2 linked regions of the Homo sapiens genome follow. The protein of the gene in region 1 purifies or fractionates together with the protein of each later gene. This does not show direct contact. Each region holds a gene or a part of one and is shown in the gene's direction. Other genes may lie near its edges.

Evidence for each region.
Region 2: the proteins of SUMF1 (region 1) and TXNL4B fractionate together in Homo sapiens (co-fractionation; one large-scale study listed by BioGRID). This does not show direct contact.

Annotation. Positions count from the first base shown.
Region 1 is NC_000003.12:4,360,339-4,363,479, reverse strand, and holds the end of SUMF1 (formylglycine-generating enzyme isoform 1 precursor), read left to right. Parts: intron 1-1,225; coding exon 1,226-1,336; 3' UTR 1,337-2,334; downstream 2,335-3,141.
Region 2 is NC_000016.10:72,084,239-72,087,699, reverse strand, and holds the end of TXNL4B (thioredoxin-like protein 4B), read left to right. Parts: intron 1-897; coding exon 898-1,063; 3' UTR 1,064-2,524; coding exon of another isoform or gene 2,525-2,594; 3' UTR 2,595-2,843; downstream 2,844-3,461. UniProt on the Homo sapiens protein: Essential role in pre-mRNA splicing. Required in cell cycle progression for S/G(2) transition.

The DNA of each region.
Region 1 (3,141 bases):
CAAAGAGAATAAAATACCTAGGAATCCACCTTACAAGGGACGTGAAGGACCTCTTCAAGGAGAACTACAAACCACTGCTCAATGAAATAAAAGAGGATACAAAGAAATGGAAGAGCAATGTATTTTTAAAAAGCAATGTTGTCCCACAGCCTTTCCTATGTTTGATGTTCCTAGACTTGTTGTTTAATTTTTTGCCGATCTACTGGCATTAAATGATATCATAAATATGATTTAGATAATAAATAATATCATAAATATTATTTAGGTATTAAATGGTGTCTTAGTGTTGTTCTTAGTATTTTTTCAGTGGCCATCTATCACTTATTACTTGGTTTAATTTCAAAAATTAATATATATTCTTATTGTATTGGAATACTGAATAGGTTTCATATAGGAAACATGAAACTCAGATTGCTTGAGGGATAACTACTGTGCACATTGTGGTGCATTCGGAATCTTCCAGTCTTTTCTTCTTGGCACATGTAGTTATCTACACTGTGGTCATACCACATATACACCTTTATATTCTGCCTTTTTCATTTTAACTGTTTTTTTTTCTTTTTTTGGACACAAGATCTTGCTCTGTCACCCAGGCTTTAGTACAGTGGCTCAGTGATGGTGTACTGCAGCCTCAAACACCCAGGCTCAAGAGATCTTCCCACTTCAACCTCTAGAGTAGCTGTGACTACAAGTGCACACCACCATGCTCAGCTAATTTTTTGTAGAGATGGGATCTTGCTGTGTTGCCCAGGCTGGCCTCGAGCTCCTGGCCTCAAACAGTTCTCCCATTTCAGCCTCCCAAAATGTTGGGATTACAGGTGTGAGCCAGTGCGCCTGGCCTCATTTAACATTTTATCATGAAAACTTCCTGTGTCATTAAATACTATGTAAAGACATGACTTTCAATGGCTGCTTACTTTTCTATTATATGGATGTGCCTAAACTTAGGCAATCATTGGTTGTTACATTTTTCTTTTTTGCTGTTATATCTAATGCTGAACATCTTTGTACTATATCCGTGTTACATTTATAAGGTGAAGGACGTTGGAAAATATGTGGTTAGTTCTTGAATGTGCTGCCCTTTTTAAAGCATACATGTTAAGTATCCATACAGGCAGGGTTGTGGGGAAGCACTGTCTACAGCCGGTGCAATATGCATCTGATGGGTTAGAGCCTTCAGCTGAGAGTCCCAGTAGCACTTACCTTGCTCTTTCTCTCTACACAGTCTTATTGTTACAGGTATCGCTGTGCTGCTCGGAGCCAGAACACACCTGATAGCTCTGCTTCGAATCTGGGATTCCGCTGTGCAGCCGACCGCCTGCCCACTATGGACTGACAACCAAGGAAAGTCTTCCCCAGTCCAAGGAGCAGTCGTGTCTGACCTACATTGGGCTTTTCTCAGAACTTTGAACGATCCCATGCAAAGAATTCCCACCCTGAGGTGGGTTACATACCTGCCCAATGGCCAAAGGAACCGCCTTGTGAGACCAAATTGCTGACCTGGGTCAGTGCATGTGCTTTATGGTGTGGTGCATCTTTGGAGATCATCACCATATTTTACTTTTGAGAGTCTTTAAAGAGGAAGGGGAGTGGAGGGAACCCTGAGCTAGGCTTCAGGAGGCCCGCGTCCTACGCAGGCTCTGCCACAGGGGTTAGACCCCAGGTCCGACGCTTGACCTTCCTGGGCCTCAAGTGCCCTCCCCTATCAAATGAAGGGATGGACAGCATGACCTCTGGGTGTCTCTCCAACTCACCAGTTCTAAAAAGGGTATCAGATTCTATTGTGACTTCATAGTGAGAATTTATTATAGATTATTTTTTAGCTATTTTTTCCATGTGTGAACCTTGAGTGATACTAATCATGTAAAGTAAGAGTTCTCTTATGTATTATTTTCGGAAGAGGGGTGTGGTGACTCCTTTATATTCGTACTGCACTTTGTTTTTCCAAGGAAATCAGTGTCTTTTACGTTGTTATGATGAATCCCACATGGGGCCGGTGATGGTATGCTGAAGTTCAGCCGTTGAACACATAGGAATGTCTGTGGGGTGACTCTACTGTGCTTTATCTTTTAACATTAAGTGCCTTTGGTTCAGAGGGGCAGTCATAAGCTCTGTTTCCCCCTCTCCCCAAAGCCTTCAGCGAACGTGAAATGTGCGCTAAACGGGGAAACCTGTTTAATTCTAGATATAGGGAAAAAGGAACGAGGACCTTGAATGAGCTATATTCAGGGTATCCGGTATTTTGTAATAGGGAATAGGAAACCTTGTTGGCTGTGGAATATCCGATGCTTTGAATCATGCACTGTGTTGAATAAACGTATCTGCTAAATCAGGCTTCACCGTCATCAGCTTCTTTTCTCTTTCTCTTCTTTATGTTTTCTTTTAAAGAGAGGACTTTGTGATATGCGTGTTTTATTTGCTAGAAAACGTTCATGTTTGTTAGCTAATGGATAACTTTGATATGTGGGTAATTTGTGGGAATTTTTGTTCCAAAAAGCAAGGCTATTCCACCAGTAACCCTATCATGACCTTGCTGCTTGTTGCCACAGTAGATAATGCCAAGTCAAAGGCACTGCCTCACTTGTGGTCTTGTAAAACCCAGCATTTGCTTCCCATGCCGGGAAAGCACCTTGTTTTAGAACAATAGCTTTCAACCTAAGGTCCCTGTTATCAAGTTCCCATCCTGATTCCTCAGTCCTGAGAACCCCTAAGCCATTTCTTGCATGCCATTTGAAAGAAATGTTTAAATCAAATAATATTCAAAAGTGTCTAACCAACACTTGAATGCTACTTTTGTGCTTAGCCTCTTAACATGTTAAAACAATTCCCTTGAAAAGCAGTCATGTAGGCCAGGCCCAGTGGCTCACACCTGTAACCCCAGCACTTTGGGAGGCCAAGGTGGGTAGATCACTCAAGGTCAGGAGTTCGAGATTAGCTTGGCCAACATGCCAAAACCCTATTTCTACTAAAAATACAAAAAATAAAATTTAGCCAGGAGTGGTGACACTTGCCTGTAGTCCCAGCTACTCAGGACTGAGCCAGGAGAATTGCTTGAACCTGGAAGGCGGAGGTTGCAGTGAGCCGAGATCGCGCCATTGCATTCCAGCCTGGATAAGAGAACAAGACTTTGTCTCAGGAAAA
Region 2 (3,461 bases), on another chromosome or scaffold:
AGCAAGGCTCCATCGCAAAACAACAACAACAACAACAAAAAAAAAACACAAAAGTATTTTAAAGCTGTTTATTCTACTGGAACACATTTGATGTAAGTATTAATTTGGTACAACCTTTTATGGGGGCCAGTTCAACATTATGTATCAAATAGTTTAAAGTTTTTAAACTTTTTAACCCAGTAATTACACTTCCAGGACTTTAATATGATGTTGCAGATGCACATTTAACAAATGAAAGAAATATATGTCAGCTAGAAAAAAGCATATTACTGAATAATTTGTATGACATAATTCCCAATGTTGGGAAAAAAGAAGTTTGTATCTGCACATACACACACACACACACACACACACACACACACACACACACACAAGATTGGAAGGATAGACACTGAAAAGTGACCTCTGGCCTCATCCGTGATTTTATTTATTTCTTTAAAATTTTTACAGTAACATACCTGGTGTTTGAGATACTTTTCTAAAAAATCAATTTTTTAATACCTACCACTCAAAAGGCCATGAATATTGAATGGGCTTTGCACAATGCCCAGGCAAAAGCAACAACAGCAAACGAAGAAACAATGTGCACTCCAACACTTGGTGAAATCTGCTTGATGATTTGAGAAGTGATAAAAATAGATTTTGTGATTACAATAGCTTTTGAAGCTAAAGCTTTGCACATGACAGAGCTTTCATGCTAGTGGCCCACAGCACTGGGTTGAGTCATTTACTAAATGGAAAAAAATGATTGAAAAATTAATGTTGGGCTTTATTTCTGAAGTCTCATTGACAAGAAGAAAATAACAAAGCTGTTTTTCATTTTGTTTATCCTGAAAGTCTTCAACAAGTGATTACTCAAAGTTCTTAGAGCAGTTGTTTCTCTTCTATGCTGTCTAGATCTCCAGATCACACTAAGTTTGTGGGAAGCTTCAAAACCAAACAAGACTTCATAGATTTGATTGAAGTAATCTATCGAGGAGCAATGAGGGGGAAGCTTATTGTCCAAAGTCCTATTGATCCCAAGAATATTCCCAAATATGACCTTCTCTATCAAGACATTTAGTACATTAATTGCTGTCAAAGATGAAGAAGAAGGCACATCTTGACACAGTACCTGAATCCAGCTGTGCTGTGTTTCTGGAGTCCTTTGGAAACATGTGTCCCAGAGGAGAAGAGGTTTGACTTGCGTGTAGAAAACCCGGCCCCTGAGGAAAAGACCCCACTGGTTCTCTGATGACCTGGGATGCCTAACTGTCTACTCCCTGCAAGCCTCAGAGCAGCCAAGTCATTGGTGTTCATTTTCCCCACAGTGATTTTTGTAACTTCTCTTTCTAATGTTTTTCTTTATCCCTTTAATACAGAACCCTCCCAAACATTGGCTAGTACAACTTGATTTCATCATGTTCATTTGATACACAAGTGAACTGGAAAGTCACTTCCCATAGAAGCAAAAGTACTTATTTTCTACCCTAGCTGGGTGCATGTGTGTGCACACACACACACACACACACCCCCACACCCCTTTGCCGGTTCCTCGACTCATACATCCCTCGTGCTTTCCCATCTCCAGTCTGTATTACTGTAGGTTCTCTTCAAATAATTAATTGAGCAGACAAGTTTGTTTTATTTTGGAGCCTTTTTGGCTCTGGCTTTTAAACATTGTCCTGGTTGGCTCATTTAATTTTTTTTTTTTTTTTTGAGACCGAGTCACTCTTGTCACCCAGGCTGGAGTGCAGTGGCGCGATCTCGGCTCACTGCAAGCTCCACCTCCTGGGTTCATGCCATTTTCCTGCTTCAGCCTCCTGAGTAGCTGGGACTACAGGCGCCCGCCACCATGCCCAGCTAATTTTTTGTATTTTTATAGAGGCGCAGTTTCACCGTGTTAGCCAAGATGGTCTCGATCTCCTGACCTCGTGATCTGCCCTCCTCAGCCTCCCAGGTGCTGGGATTATAGGCGTGAGCCACCGCGCGCACCCCATTTAATTATTTTTTATGTTATAAAATTTAATATGGAAAGTGAGAATTTGAACCTTCACCATCCACCACTCTATTCAGGTAAAACAATGAATGAGCCACCTTAGCAGGAGCAGATTTTTCCCAGAAGCTGCTGCCTCTTCCTGAGGCAGAAAATTGGATTACTAAGGCTCAAAACTAAAAGAGATGTCAGCATTGTTGGATAGAAATGTCACCTATATGGGATTTGCCTGTTTTAATAACTTTGTAAGGAATTCTTGCTCTTCTAGGGGTGCCTGGCGCAACCGTGGGCAAGTTACTGCTCCTCTTTAAACCTCGTGGTGGTTATTGAAACAGATTTATTAGAAGGAGAGGGTAGGTGCAGAGCTGGAGAGCCATGGGTGAGGCAGCTTGTGACCTGCCTAGCAGCCGCTGACCACCTCTCCAACAGAAGCCTAGTCCTGTTCAGAGCAGCACTGTCACTGCAAGTCCAGCCCCCTTTGCCAGGGGCTCCATTCCACCCCTTTCCTGCAGGGAGGGGTGCCATGAGTCTTGCTTTTGGCTCATACAGGAGAGAGGGAAGGCTGCCAGGCACTGCTTGTATCCCTGCTGATAAGAGGAGGGAGTCACTCCAGGAATAAGACAAAAGGAGAGGAGGAGGCCATCACCTCTGGCCTCTTCCATCGTACACTTCCTGTCTCTGGTTTAATCATGATGCATGGAGCTACAACAGCCATCTTAGGTCCCCGAGGTGCCCAGCATCACGTAAAACATCGATATGCTAAGAAGAACAAAAAGAGCCCAATCTCTGATGTTATTGAGCTCCTGCATGAACTCTGGACCTGCCTGCCTCAGACTTCTGTGAAAGAATAAAATTTCTTTTTGCCTAAGTCACTGTTAGTTGGGTTTTCTGTTCTTCAGCCCAGATCACACAGTATTTGCGGTATGGTAAGCACTCAGCGCACCAGCCAAAACTCAGAACCTGCGTGTGCAAAATTATCATGTCTTCTTCCTCCTGTTAGAAATAAGTTCTCTTATTTCTGAGTGCCGCAGAGGAAGAGGAGCACTCAGAAGAAAAGTTTCTCAGCAAGGCAAAGTTTACTTCTGCAGAAGGGTGCTGCCCGCGCCTATAGCAGTCGCAAAAGCACACCTAACAAAGGAGAACAGGTTTCTAACCCTAACGCAGTTCCTGCTTCTTTGTCTTTCCCCCATTGGCTGGGGTTGGACCGCACAGTCTAGGCTGACTCCAATTGGCTATGCGCTTGAATCTTTCTCAAATAAGGCAGAGGGTAAAGGTTACAGGTTAAGGTTTGGAGCAAGGCGGTTTACAGCCTATGACAAGAAAGTTGGATCTTTGAAGAGGAACCTTTCTTTTATTCTGACAATTTCCCCCTTTTTGTTGTTATAATTCTTCCTCTTCAAATTATTTTAGTAAGATTTGGCTTTGTTGCTCTTCTTGATTGTCTAGGAGTAAAAGTTGGTCTGAATATGGAGGGGGAGAGACAGAG